2 linked regions of the Homo sapiens genome follow. The protein of the gene in region 1 interacts with the protein of each later gene in a pairwise test. Each region holds a gene or a part of one and is shown on either strand. Other genes may lie near its edges.

Region 1 (7,038 bases):
CTACAGCTCCTTAGGCTCCAGGCCTCAGGCACAAGAGATAGAGAATCATATCTGAGCCTTTTGCCCTTCCCTTAGCTCCAAACAAGGGCAGGGGTTGAAATGTGAGTGGGAGAGAAGGGATCATCAGACACACTGTTTAGCACCTGAACCACATCTCTTCCTAAACCAGAAATCCCAAGAGCAGAAAGAAATAGGAGCAAAGTGAGAGAGGGGTTGTGCTTCCATCACATTAAATAGGAGACTTCGTGGGGTTGGGCAAGGGTTGTTTCACATCAGGACATCAATGACTCTGGTCAAGGTGAGGGGTTATAATTAGCAAAGCTTCATGTGCTCTCCCTTTCTTTATTCATCCTGCTTCCGTTTCGGCTTTTTGGGGTTCCGGGACCGACTCTTGGCCTTGCAAAGAGGGCATATAGGTGCATTCCGGTGAATTTGCTGGTGACATGACAAGCAGGCCTGGTGAGGGACACAGGAAAAAGAAAGTTAGTAGTCAGATTCTTCCAGGCAACAACTTAGACTTCTGATTCCCCAGGGGCCCAGAAAGCAAAGTGATTTCCCATCAGAAGAGAGCAATAATCAGTGAGTAGACTCAAGTATTCTTGGATGCCATGGAAGATGGGAAGGAAGGACATAACCCAGTTCAGAGAATGGTGTTGAGAAAAAGTATACAAAACTAGAAAGTAAGGCAAAATGAGAACTACACATCTTTTCGTCATTATAATGAAGCATTGTCTAACAGGCCCACTTAAGGACTATTTAATTTTCTAGAACAGGGGTCAACAAACATTTTCTGTAAAGGCCAGGACAGCAAATACTTTAGACTTTTTACATCATATAAACTTGCTGCAACTACTCAATTCTGTTTTGCATGAAAGAAGTGATAGACAATAGCTTGCATGCATGTTGTTTGCAATAGCTTGCAAACACAGACATGCATGTGGGCCAATAAAACTTTAACGAAAACAGGGAACAGATTAGATTTGACCTGTAGGCTGTAATTTGATGACCCCTGCTCTAGAAGAATGTCTCTTTGTTTGACTATTTACCAATTGATTAGGACCCAGGCTCTGTGATGTTACACTGATAAGCTGCAAATGGCTTTTGCCCAGTAGAGATGCAAATTACTTCTGTTTGGAAGAAAAAGTAACTATAAAGTTACAGTTTTATTGTCCTGTGGGATGTAAACCAGTTTTGCATCTAACTTTGCAAATTTGTTTCAGCCTTCCTCTCCTTTCTTGACTATATAGATATTTGTTCCAAATGCTCCTGGAACCAGCTTTATAATCCTGCTGGTTCCCTCATTTATGATACATGCTCATTACATCTTTGTGTAAGAGTCATTTCTAACTTTTAGAATTGCACTCTAGCAGGGCCTGAAAATCTCCCTGCATTCTAACACCTCTGGGAACATGGGGCAACAAAACCTGTGCTGTGTGTGTCCAACACAGCACACCCATGTCACCCCTTCCACTGTGTCACAAGCAAAGGCCATTAAAAGAAGGCCCAGCATAAATAAAGCCAAAGACCCAGAACTAGCCTTCCACGGCCCTTCCATGGGAGGATACTTTGCTTCCTCCACAACCATTACCCAGCTCACTTACCTTCATAGGTGGGGGCTGCTGCCTGAAGGTGGCCGTCTGCCGAGTATCCTGCTTCCTAGCCACTTGGAGCTGTTGGGCGGCAGCGGCTGCAGCGGCCAGGGACTCAGGGATGGGGGGCTCCTGAGGTTCTGTCTGCCATTCTGCTTTCTGCTTCTCAAAGTAACTTTGGAGATGAGAGACACTGGCTAGATCATTCTGAAAGCAATGAGAACCTTGCTCCTCTTAAAGACTCCATGCCATACAACCAAGGGTTGAGCTGTGGCTCATTCTAGAAGGTCCCCACACCTTCCCAAGCACAAGGCTATTGTCCCTGGGTACTAGGCCCAATGTCTGATGAGAAGGGTAATCCTCTTTGTCCTTAGCTCTGATAGGCCAAGAAGACCAAGAAATCTTAGGGCTAGCAAGATCCTTAAAGGGTATTCAGTCCTATCTGCTATCTCATGCTCTTTTGAGTATTCCTATTAAGTGTCCTAAGGCCTCTGGTGACATATCTCTAAGAGTAGGAAGCTCACAAACTCCACAGACACCTTGCTCTACCTTTAGGAAATGATTTCCTCTACCAGGTCAAATTCTGTCTCTCTGCAAGGCAAGCCTAGTTCTTAACTCTGAGCCAGGAGATGAAGTAAGTCCCAGGCCACTTCCTGAAGACCAGGAAAGCTCAGTCTTTTTTGTTTTTAGAGGTTTCTAGATATCGCCTTCTAGACCCTGACTTGGGAAATGATCTCTTAAGAGTTATAGACATAGTCTTGTATTGTCAATATCACACAAAGAATTTAAAAAGCCACCTAGTAGTTGTTCTAATTCATCTAGTAATTCATCCAGTTTAATAATCCTCCTTCTGTTTTAACAAGCTGGCACAGAGACTTGCCCAAGATCACACAGTGAGTAAGCCACTGAAAGGCCTGGGACTAAAACTAGGCACTCTGACTTTCAGGCTAGGCTTTGTGTATGTATACCTGCCCGTGTGTGTGTAGGTATGTAAGTATGTATGTGGGTCGGAGGGAGGGTATGTTGTAGGGACTGGGGGCAGGTAGCTTACTCCAAGGAAAGCTTCTCCTCTTCTTCACACAAGTCAGGGAGCCTCTGCAGGCCCAGAGTCATGCGCAGGGCATCCACATGTTCTTTCAGTGGCTTATACTCATCATGCAGCCTCCTTGTAGACTCTAGCAGCTTGTTTAGGTCATTCTCAGATTGTTTGATAGTGTTTTCCATCTGGAACATAGAGTGGGATAGGCACAGAGAAAAGATCCTAAGGTTCTCAGAGAGGATCTATAGCTGAGTGAATAATAGCACAAGCTCCAGAACTTGTTCAGTCTATATTCAAGTCCTTGATCTCCCATGCCCTCTCCATGTAACTCTGGTCAAGTCTCAGTTTCTTCATCGGTATAATGGTGATATTCTAGTGCTTAACTCATGCAATCTTGGTGAAGATGTAATGATAGGATTCATATAAAGCACTCAGTAAATGGGCTAAATTAATATTTACTGCTAAATAAATGGTATTGTTCAAATATAGTATCTTAGAGCTGGAATGTCCTTCAGAGCTCATTTAGTCCACCTTACTCCCATTTTATAGAAAACTGAGGCTCAAAGAGAAAAAGGGACTTTCCTGGGGAAATACTTCTTAGTATCAAATCCTGCATAAAGACTTAGGGCTTCCGCCTCCCAGGCCAGCAGTCTTTTCTCCTAGATCAGTGATTCTCAAAATGTGGCCAAGGGATCAGCAGCATCAGCATCACCTGGGAACTCAGAAATGCATATTCTTAGGTTCACCTCAGACATACAAAATCAGAAAATCAGGGGTGGAGTCTAGCAATATGTGTCTTAGGCTCTCAAAGTGGCTTTGATGCATGCTCAAGTTTGAGATCCACTGGCTTATATTCTTAGCCCTTCTGGCAAATATCTTCCTCATTTAACTGGCCCTGTATCATTGGTTAGCTGGCAGCCAAACTGTCAACACTTTATGAGATCTAGAATTCTGCGATCTCTAACACAGAAAATCCCAATTGCTTACTGTCCAAACCTCATTCATATTTCCTTTATGATCCTAGGTCTGACAACATCAGAAAATGAGTATTGCCACAGAAATGAGTTTTCCAGAAATATAAACTTAGTTCCTTTGAAAGTAAATTTTAAAAATATATTCTTCATGGTTATGGGTGATAAGGGTTTGAAAAGACCTTACTGGTCAGCACTGCCAACCTCCTTCCTTGTGAAGGAATCATCAGTACAGTAGCTCATACAAGTGTCCATTAAGATGCTGCTTGAATAATTCCAAAGAGGGGAGCTTACCACCTTAGCAGACAGTTCATATTCTGTGTTCCAAGAGTTTCCAAAGGATATATCAATGAGGAAGCTCCACTTTGGTAGCAGGCAGAAATGATTTGTTTGGTCTGACTGAAAGCTTGGAGTGCTTTAAACTACATTCCAGAGGCAGCTGCCTGCTCTGCTTTTCCCCAAGGCTAGCTCTCAACTCCCAGAATCCCAGAATGAGAGCACATCAAATCAGTACATTTAGAGGGTACTGAGTCCCCCTTATAGTGCAGAGAGGGAAAATGAGGCCCAGAGAGAAGGGACTTGTCCAGTGATATATAGTCAGTTAGTGACAGAGCCAGGGCTGGATCTCAGAACTCCTGAATTCTTCTGCTCTACCACAGCCTGCACTGATGCCTGCTCCCCGAGCTAGGCCTAAGCCACATCTCAAGGAAAGGCCCTATCATTCACCACTACCTCTTTCTCAAAGGCTTTAGAGATAGGCTCCAGGCAGCCACGTACCACATTGATGTCAGCGTGGATCAGTCGGAGTTCCTCCACATGGGCCATCTTCTCCTGTAGCAGAAGGTCCATCTCCTGCTTGTATTCCTTCAGGTGCCTTTCCTCTGACTCAAGTGCCTCAAACTCAGCCTTCAAACGAGCCTTGATCTTCTCCATCTGCAGGGTCTTGTTCCTGCAATTTGCAAAAAGCAGGAAACAGGCCAGCAAAAGAAGGGAGAAAATAGAAATGGAGCCAGGACTTTTTTTCTAAGCCATCTTTACAAGCTTCCCCCTCTCCAGGCAGAGCCAACCTGAGGCCATCTCAAAAAAGAAGGCCAGGTGCAATGGCTCATGCCAGTAATCTCAGCAATTTGGAAGACAGAGGCAGGAGGATCACTTGAGCCCAGGAGTTTGAAACCAGCATGGGCAACATAGTGAGACCTTATATCTACAAAAAAAAAAAAGAAAAAGAAAAAAGAAAAAAAAAAGAAAAAGAAAAAGAAAAAGAAAGAAAGAAAGAAAGAATTAGCCACACATGGTGGTACATGCCAGTAGTCTCAACTACTCAGGAGGATAAGGCAGGAGGATTGCTTAAGCTATGATTGCACTACTGCACTCCAACCTAGGTGACAGAGCAAGACCTTGTCTCAAGAAAAAGTTAGGAGATGTTTCCCTCTAAAAGCTCAGTGGGTCTCGAATGGGGTTAATTTTGTTCCCTTATGGGGCATTTGCAAATATGGAGTGTTTTGGCTGTTAGATTGACTCAAGGAAATGTGTTACTGGCATTTAGTGGACATGGGCCAGAGATGCTAAATAGCCTCTCAATGCCCAGGAAAGTCCTGAACACAAAGAACTCCCACCCAAGAAACCAAAAATGATCTCTTGAGAAACTCTAAGTAAGCACTGTCCAATAAACTTACTACAGTGATGGAAATGTTTTGTATCTGTGCTGTCCAGTATAATAGCCACTATGCACATATGGCTACTGAGCACTTGTGATGTGGCCAGTGCTACTGAGGAACTGAGTTTTGAATTTTATTTAATCAAACTTAAAATTTAAACAGCCACGTGTGGCTACTGGCTGTCATATTAGACAGCACAACTCTAGAGGGTGTGTTTATCAGTTCCAGAAAAGGAAGGGGAAAGGATATTATGGGTAATTTCTTTCTTAGAAAAAGAAAAACCTGGTTTTGGTCATTAAATCCCAATTGTATACCGTGTGGCTCAGGAATCCTATACTTGGGAATATATTTTAAGGAGGTAATTCAAGGAAGCAAAAAGTTAATACACAGAGGTGTACTTTCTGGGCTTTCAGCAAAATTAGGATATTTGACAGCCACTGAAGACTTGTGACATAGAAAATGTTGAAGATAAGATACTCGCTGAAAAAGTGTACACACTAAGATTACAATTTCAAAACATACATGGATGTGACTAAATAAGAAAAAGATTTGGAAGAAACACAGTTTCAAGGGCCTTTAATAACATAATTTGAAGCCTGCCTCTGGGAAAGGGCTACAAAGTTTTGAAAGGGGTACCCTCTAAGGCATGTTGTTGTCTTCCCACTGGCTCCCTACCATGCTTCTCAGGATCTGCCTAGCCATTATCCCCTTACTCAGATTTGTAGTCTCCTTTCTTCTCCCTCAGTAGCTGATCTTCCCCTCTGCCCCAGTCTATCCTATGGGTGATCCAACTCCACACACTGGACTCTGGCTTCTGCCATCAGCCTGCTTGTCTTCAGTCTCTCTTTTCTTGACATTGCCTGTGCCTCTTGCCTCAAGAGGTAGCCTTCAATGGCACAGAACTACAGAAAGAACTGTTAGGTGGGTAGGATGGTGGGAGAAGTTTCTCTTTCTATACTAAGAAAACATCTTTTCATGTTATTGTATTTTTTTTTTTTTTGTAACCTTAGAAATGGGTTAAAAGGTGGGTGTTATCCCATTTGTAGAGAAGGGAATTGAGTGAGGTTCAGGGTGGTAACTTGCCCAGTACCACAGAGCTAGTAAATTGGATGTTGGGATTTGAACCAGGGCTCTCTAACACCAAAGCCTACATACCATCCATACCATCCACTACTCTATATTGCCTTTGAACAGGGTTACCAGGCTGAAGGGCATAAAAACATCAAGGGTTCTTGTTATAGCTCATCAACTGTCTTGCAGAGGGAAGATACTGATTTGTATTGGTTAATTACTTATTTGCTTATATCCCCATCTATCTAGACTTCTATTCTCCTCCTTTTCTAGGTTACGTGAAGATAAACCTGAACTTTGCCTGCTCCTGTAACCATTTTACCGATGGGAAAACTAAGATTCAGAGTAGTATAGTGTCTCACCCTAAGTGTCATACAACCAGTTAGGGCAGTGCTGGGCCAAGAACCTATTTCTGCAGACAAAGTCATATCATAAAAGAAGCATGCGCTTTAGACTCAGACTTCAATTATAAATCCTGGTTCTGCCTCTGATTAACTATTTGCTTTTGGACAATAATAACAACTGTATTTTAACTATATTTATTGAGCACTTACTATGTATTAATTATAGAGGGTTTCAATATATATTCAGTCAATAATTATTTATTGAATACTTATCATGTGCCAGGCATTCATTGTACTAGGTACTAGGGATAGAGCAGAGAACAAGACAGTATATAGACAGCAAGTTTCATCTAATGAAGAAAATCG
Region 2 (6,502 bases), on another chromosome or scaffold:
TTACTTCTATGTTTTCTTCTAATACTTTTATAGTTTAGCTGTTACATTAGGTCACTGATGAATTTTGAGTTAACTTTTAAGTGTAGGGTGAGGTACAATCTAACTTCATTATGTTGTGTGTCTGTGTATAGGTGTCCCAGCAGTATTGGTCGAAGAGACTATTCTGTCTCCATAAAGTAATCTTGGATCCTTCTTGAAAATCAAGTGGCCTTAGATGTATGGGTTTCTTTATGGACTCTCACTTCTATTCCATTTGTATATATATCTGCCTCCTGGGTTGAAGCGATCCTCCCACTTCAGCCTCTCCAGTAGTCTCCAGCTGGGACTACAGACATACACCAACACAACTGGCTAATTATTGTATTTCTTGTAGAGATGGGGTTTCTGATGTTCACTGAGAAATCTAAAAATAATGCATACAATTATAAAATAGAAAAATACCAGCAAATATTCACTGCTGAAGAAAATAAGAATATAATTGTAACACACTATGTATGTACACTCAAAAAAAAAATTCCAGAAACACAGAGAGATGCTTGTCTAGAAACAAAGAAAGGTATTTATTTAATTTTTTTTTTTGGAGACAGGGTCTCACTCTGTTGCCCTGGCTGGAGTGCAGTAGCACTACCATAGGTCAGTGCAGCCTCAATCTTCCAGACTCAAGCAATGTAAGGATGCAGCAAAAATACAAAGACACATGTGGCTGACATTCTAGTGGTCATCAATTTTGACATGTTCATCATTAGTGTTTTGAAAGTGTGTGAACAAACTCTTATACTAAGACCTGTCTCCTGAATAATAACTAATTGTCAAACTTCTGTTAGAAACCCTGCAGCATTCTCTGCTCTGACAGTCCCACGACCACTGGGGTATGCTGAGCTATGGCTGAAACACTAACTTCAAACTGTCCTCAATCACATGGGGAAGCTTAAAAAGCTGATTTCTTAGAAGTAGTGAGAACAGTGGCTCTAGAGGCAGGGAAGGGTAAGGGATAGGTGGGATGGCCAAAGGTTGGCTAATGGATGCAAAAGTACAGGTAGATAAGAGGAAGAAGTTCTGCTGTTCTGCAGCACTAAAGGTGACTATCATCGACAACAATTTATTTTCAAACTGCTGGAACAATGAATTTTTAATTTTCTCAACACAAAAAAGAGATAATTGAGGTGATAAATGTGCTAATTACACTGATTTGATCATTATACATCATATACATATATTTAAATATCACACTGTACCCCATAAATATGTACAACACTTACGTGTCATTTAAAAATAATGATAAAATTATATCAAGATTCAAGCGCCTCTTGTAGCGCTTCCCACAGTCTTCACATTTGGATGGATTTTCTCCACTGTGGTTTTTTTGTTGGTCTTTACGGTATGACCGGTATACAAGCTTCTTTCCACAATCCTCACATTTGAATGGTTTTTTTCGGCAATGGAGTCTCTTATGATTCAAAATACTTGAGGCCTGTCTAAAGCTCTTCCCACAGTCATCACAGTTATAAGGTCTCTCTCCTGTGTGGGCTCTATGGTGCAAGTCAAGACCTGACTTAGTAATGTAGCTCTTCCCACACTTGTCACATTTGTATGGCTTTTCTCCAGTGTGGACTCGCTGATGGATCAAAAGATAGGAGGACCGTCTGAAGCTCTTCCCACATTCTTTACAATTATATGGTTTCTCTCCTGTGTGGATCGTCTGATGCTTACACAAATCCAGCCTACGAATGAAGCCTTTTCCATATTCCCCAGTGCTGTTTGGTTTCTTTCCTGTGTGGACCACACAATGCCTATTAAGACTTGACCTAAGACGGAAGCTCACACTACATATCTCACATTTGAATGGCTTCTCCCCTGTGTGAATTCTCTGATGTTTCTGAAGCTGGAAATCATGAATGAAGGCCCTCCCACATGCCTCACAATTATAATGTTTCTCTCCCATGTGTAATTTGCAATGAACTGTAAGTGCTGATCTACATCTGAAGCCTCTCCCACATTGTTCACATTTGAAAGGTTTCTCTCCAGTATGGACTCTCTGATGAGTTTGCAGATGTAAACTCTGACTGAATTCCTTACCACACACGTCACACTTAAAGAGTTTCTCTCCCAGGTGGACTCTCTGATGAATATGAAGCGCTGAGATGTAACAGAAGCTTTTTCCACACTCATCACAGGAATGAGACTTCTCTGCTGAGCGTATTTGCTGAGGAAGATCAAAGATGGACATATCACTGAAGGATTGTTTACACTTCCCACAATTGGAAGGTTTCTGTCCTGTGTGCATTATAGATAGTCCTTCCTCAACCTGGGAGTGGGCATCACCCTGTTCAAAGAACTGAGAGCTCTTTATGGTAGAGTCTTGAGGCCTGGTTAAATCACTTGCAATTTCTTCCCAGATCTGCTGGCAGGACCACCCTTCATGTGGTCCTGCTTCTGGAAAAGTCTTCATCTCAGGTTGGATCTTGCCTCCTATCAGAATACAAAATTAAGAGATCAGGACAAGCTATGCCCTGTTCAGTGTTTTTAAGAGTTCACACTTAGGACATGGTATGAAACTTCAACGAATGTTCAGTTTGTGTTTTCCAAGTGCACCCTGGTTTCTGGTTTGCATGAGAGTAATCTAAAACCATACCATGTCACTGGGGACGGTGGCTCACACCCATAATCCCAGCACTTTGGGAGACCAAGGCACTTTGGGAAGCTGAGGCAGGCAGATCACTTGAGGTCAGGAATTCGGGACCAGCCTGACCAACATAGTGAAACCCCGTCTCTATTAAAAATACAAAAATCAGCTAGGTGTGGTGGCACACACCTATAATCCCAGATACTTGGGAGGCTGAGGCAGGAGAATTGCTTGAACCCAGGAGGCGCAGGTTGCAGCAAGCCGAGATCGTGCCACTGCACTCCAGCCTGGGCGACACAGTGAGACTCTGCCTCAAAAAAAAAAAAAAAAAAGAAAAGAAAGAAAAAAACATACCACATTTCAAATAAAAAATCATTGATAGAAATAAAAGGTTTAATAAAAAATTAATATGACACATACATTTAACCTGTTACTGTTTTTAAAATTTCCAACTCAGTCTGAAATTTTACATGATAAATTACTAAACTATTATGTACGTAATGAAATATGAATCAAAAGGAACTCTAAGGGAAAGCAGTAACATAATAAATACTTCGTATATTTGCCTGTATATTATATATCCTTATAAAGAAGTTAACCTTCCTTTCAGTTTAAGATGGCTTAAAAAACATTTTTAAAAATAAGAAAAGGAGTTAACCTAACTAAAAAGAGGTCAGGACTTTGTCCTCAGTATCTGAGAGGTAATCTGTAGAATCTTGAAGGGGCATGCCTGAGGAGAGTCTCTCTGTTTGCTTGGGGGCAAATCTTGGGTAACTCTTGACAGTGAAATAATATAATTTAGGGTTGTGACTAGCCACAGCTTTGGGGGATGGGAAATGGCAGGTGGCATTCCCCATGTCAGAAAAAATAACGATGTGATTTAATGTAGGTCTTTAGGTCACAGGGAACCAGTGGACCAAAAGACTAAATAACCACACAGGAATCAACCAACCAATTATGGCTATGTAATGGAGCCCCAATAATTACTTGGATCCCAGCACTCAGTTGAGTTTCCCTGATTGGTGGTTCCTTGTGTCTAAGTCACATGCTAATTTTGGGTATGTAACATGCCCGACTCTACTGTGAGAATACAATAGGAGATCCACATTTGGTACTTCACTGGACTCTGTCTTATTTGGTTTTTCCCCCTTGGTTAACTATAATATGCATCTTTTGCTTGTAAAAATCAGTAACTGTGAGAATAAATACATCCAGTGAGTTCTGAGGGTCTTTCTAGGAAATTATTGAATGTGAAGGTAGTTTTGAAAAACTGCCGAATTTGCACTTGGAGTGAAGTGAGAGCAGTTCTCTGTAAAATGTCCCATTAAACTTTTTAGTTTAACCCTTCATGATACTAAACATCAAACACCTTAGAATGTTTATATCTACAAATCGAAAGTATTCCTATACAAGAATTTTGCATGACACATATAAAATACTTAATCTTATTTTTCTGTTTTGATATGGATGATAAGTTGGTTATCTGAAAGAGTACAGAGACAGACAACTGCAGTTCTGAGGGGAATCTGAAAGGCTGTCCTTCCAGAGGTCCACAAAGGAGGATGCTCTTCATCAGACAATCAATGATGTGAAGAATCACTTGGAATGAAAAGAAAGCCTATGATGTAGATAAACAGGCCTTTTTAACTGTTTTTATATTCAAGACTACACATCAGTGAGCTGAAATAAAGTTAAAACCTTCAATAGACATTTATAGAAAGGAGCCAGAATGAAAATTATCACAGTGTGGAGACAAGCAGGAAAGGTGTCGTTACATGAAATGTCAGCTAAAGTCACTCACATACACCTACATGCATGAAAACTGTCCAGGTTATACTGAAAGAGGTGTTTCTTATTATGGTTCATGCTCACAAAATGTTCAAAACTTTGTCAGGATATTACCAAGTCCTGAATTAGGTAAATTTTTCTGATGGAGAGTTAAGTTCCAAAGGTTGAAACTTGGAAAATATTAATAGGTAAGTGGGTACCCATCAGTATACCTAGCCAAACTCCACCCTTAAGCCTAGAACCTCAGCCCTAAGTGAAAACAGATGACCCCATTTTTCTGCCCCAATGTTGCTTTTTTTGGCCTGCCTGCCACTATCCTGTGACCATAAAAGATTTCAGCTGGCAGAGCAACACAAGCAGCTGAGTGGCAAGGATACAAGTCGCTGAGCGGTGAGCAGAGAAGCAACTGAGTGTCGGAAAGTATGGATAGATGTGGCTAACTTCAGAAGGTGCTGCTTTGGAGAGGGGCCCAGCCACAAATGGCCTGGCTTCAGGAACATGTTGATCCCCTTCCCAGCCCCTTTCCAGCCTCCTTTTCTGCTGAGAACCACTCACCACTCAATAAAGTCTTCTGCGTTCATCACCTTTCACACAGTTCATGTGACCTGGTTCTTCCTGGATGCTGGACAAGAACCCAGGTGCCAAGAGGGCAGGGGCTGCTACCCTGATGCTCCACTGAGCTGATTGGCACTTGGCCATCCCCAGATGGCAGAGCTGAAACAGCATGGGTTGTAACATGCTTGGACACTGCTGTGGGGCGTGCATAACAGAGCCTGCTCTCGCCAGAGAGGAGCGACCAGCCAATTCCAGCATTCATTTGCTCCGGTTCCTGCACTTGCTCGCTTGCACACTCCCTCCTGCAAGGAATCGACAGCGGTGGGCTGAGTGAAACAAACCCTGAAGTTCCTGCCCGCAAAGATGGTCAAGGGAACAATCCTGTCTAATAGGTACATGGATATATTTAATACACTGTGACTTATAAATAAGAGGTCTTTAAGGAGATGGGAAGGGGTCTCAGGATGTTTCTATTTTGAGTAAGTAATTCCCCAATTCCTTCCAGGTCATAAAGCTTACTAGTTCAAAATATAGCACTAAATCTATAAAAATAAACAAAAAGCCTGTCCTTTAACTTTTTGACAATTAAATTTGCATAATGTAAAGAAAAGGGAAATACGCACATTTTTGAAGAAAGATGACCAGAAACAGAGTCAACATTCAGCTACATAACTTGTGTCCTCTCATCCTCATTCTTCCCCCTCTAAGGGAAGGAAGGAGGAACTGGAGGCAGTGAAGTGTGGGCCGACTTTGGAAAAGGCAAATGGGCTGCAGATGGGTAAATCTCTCAAAGGAAAGCTAGCTGCAAATCCTCATTCAAAAAGACTTTCTTCTCAGATATAAATATGCTCCCTATGGAAAGCTCCAGGGTAGGTCCCAGGGAAGGCATATTACTCAGTGTGGTCATGAAAAAAAAAATGCTATGCTTAGAAGTTTCCACAGGACATGGGTCAACTGCACACACATAAAACCAATCATGTCAAGGAAACCTAAGAAAGTTGAAAATGGATAAGCAGCCATCCACAGAGAAAAAAAAAATCTGTTCTGCAATATATAATCAGCCCTCCATATCCATGGGTTTGGCATCCATGGATTCAACCAACAGGACATAAAAAATATTTAGGGAAAAAAATTCCAGTTCCAAAGAGCAAAACTGGAATTTCTCACACACTGAGTCCTATGTTGAATCCTTGTGAATGAAGTGACAGGTAGGCATTGCATTTGGTATTATAACTGGTCTAGACATGATTTAAAGTATATGGGAGGATGTACATAGGTTATAGGCAAAGACTTCACATATATCAGGAACTTGAACATCTCTGGCTTTCGGTATCCATGTGGGGTCCTGAAATCAAACCCCTATGGCTTCCAAGGGACTAATATATTTCATACACTCTGGTTCATGTATTACTTATTAGCTAGCTCCATGATTCCTACAGACAGTGAAGTCCCCCCATCCATTAATTCATTCATCAGGATACCAAATATTTACAGATCCCTCCATGTACTAGGACTATTCTAGGCACTGAAGATGCA

What was found. The genes of interacting proteins can lie anywhere in the genome.
Region 2: the proteins of ZC4H2 (region 1) and ZNF223 interact in binary tests that used the Homo sapiens proteins (3 or more experiments, as listed by UniProt).

What each region holds. Positions count from the first base shown.
Region 1 is NC_000023.11:64,917,441-64,924,478, forward strand, and holds part of ZC4H2 (zinc finger C4H2 domain-containing protein), read right to left. Parts: intron 4,804-7,038; exon of another isoform or gene 4,549-4,803; coding exon 4,377-4,548; intron 2,814-4,376; coding exon 2,641-2,813; intron 1,765-2,640; coding exon 1,602-1,764; intron 457-1,601; coding exon 343-456; coding exon of another isoform or gene 324-342; 3' UTR 1-323. UniProt on the Homo sapiens protein: Plays a role in interneurons differentiation. Involved in neuronal development and in neuromuscular junction formation.
Region 2 is NC_000019.10:44,062,031-44,068,532, reverse strand, and holds the end of ZNF223 (zinc finger protein 223), read right to left. Parts: intron 5,216-6,502; exon of another isoform or gene 4,967-5,215; intron 2,470-4,966; coding exon 1,256-2,469; 3' UTR 534-1,255; downstream 1-533. UniProt on the Homo sapiens protein: May be involved in transcriptional regulation.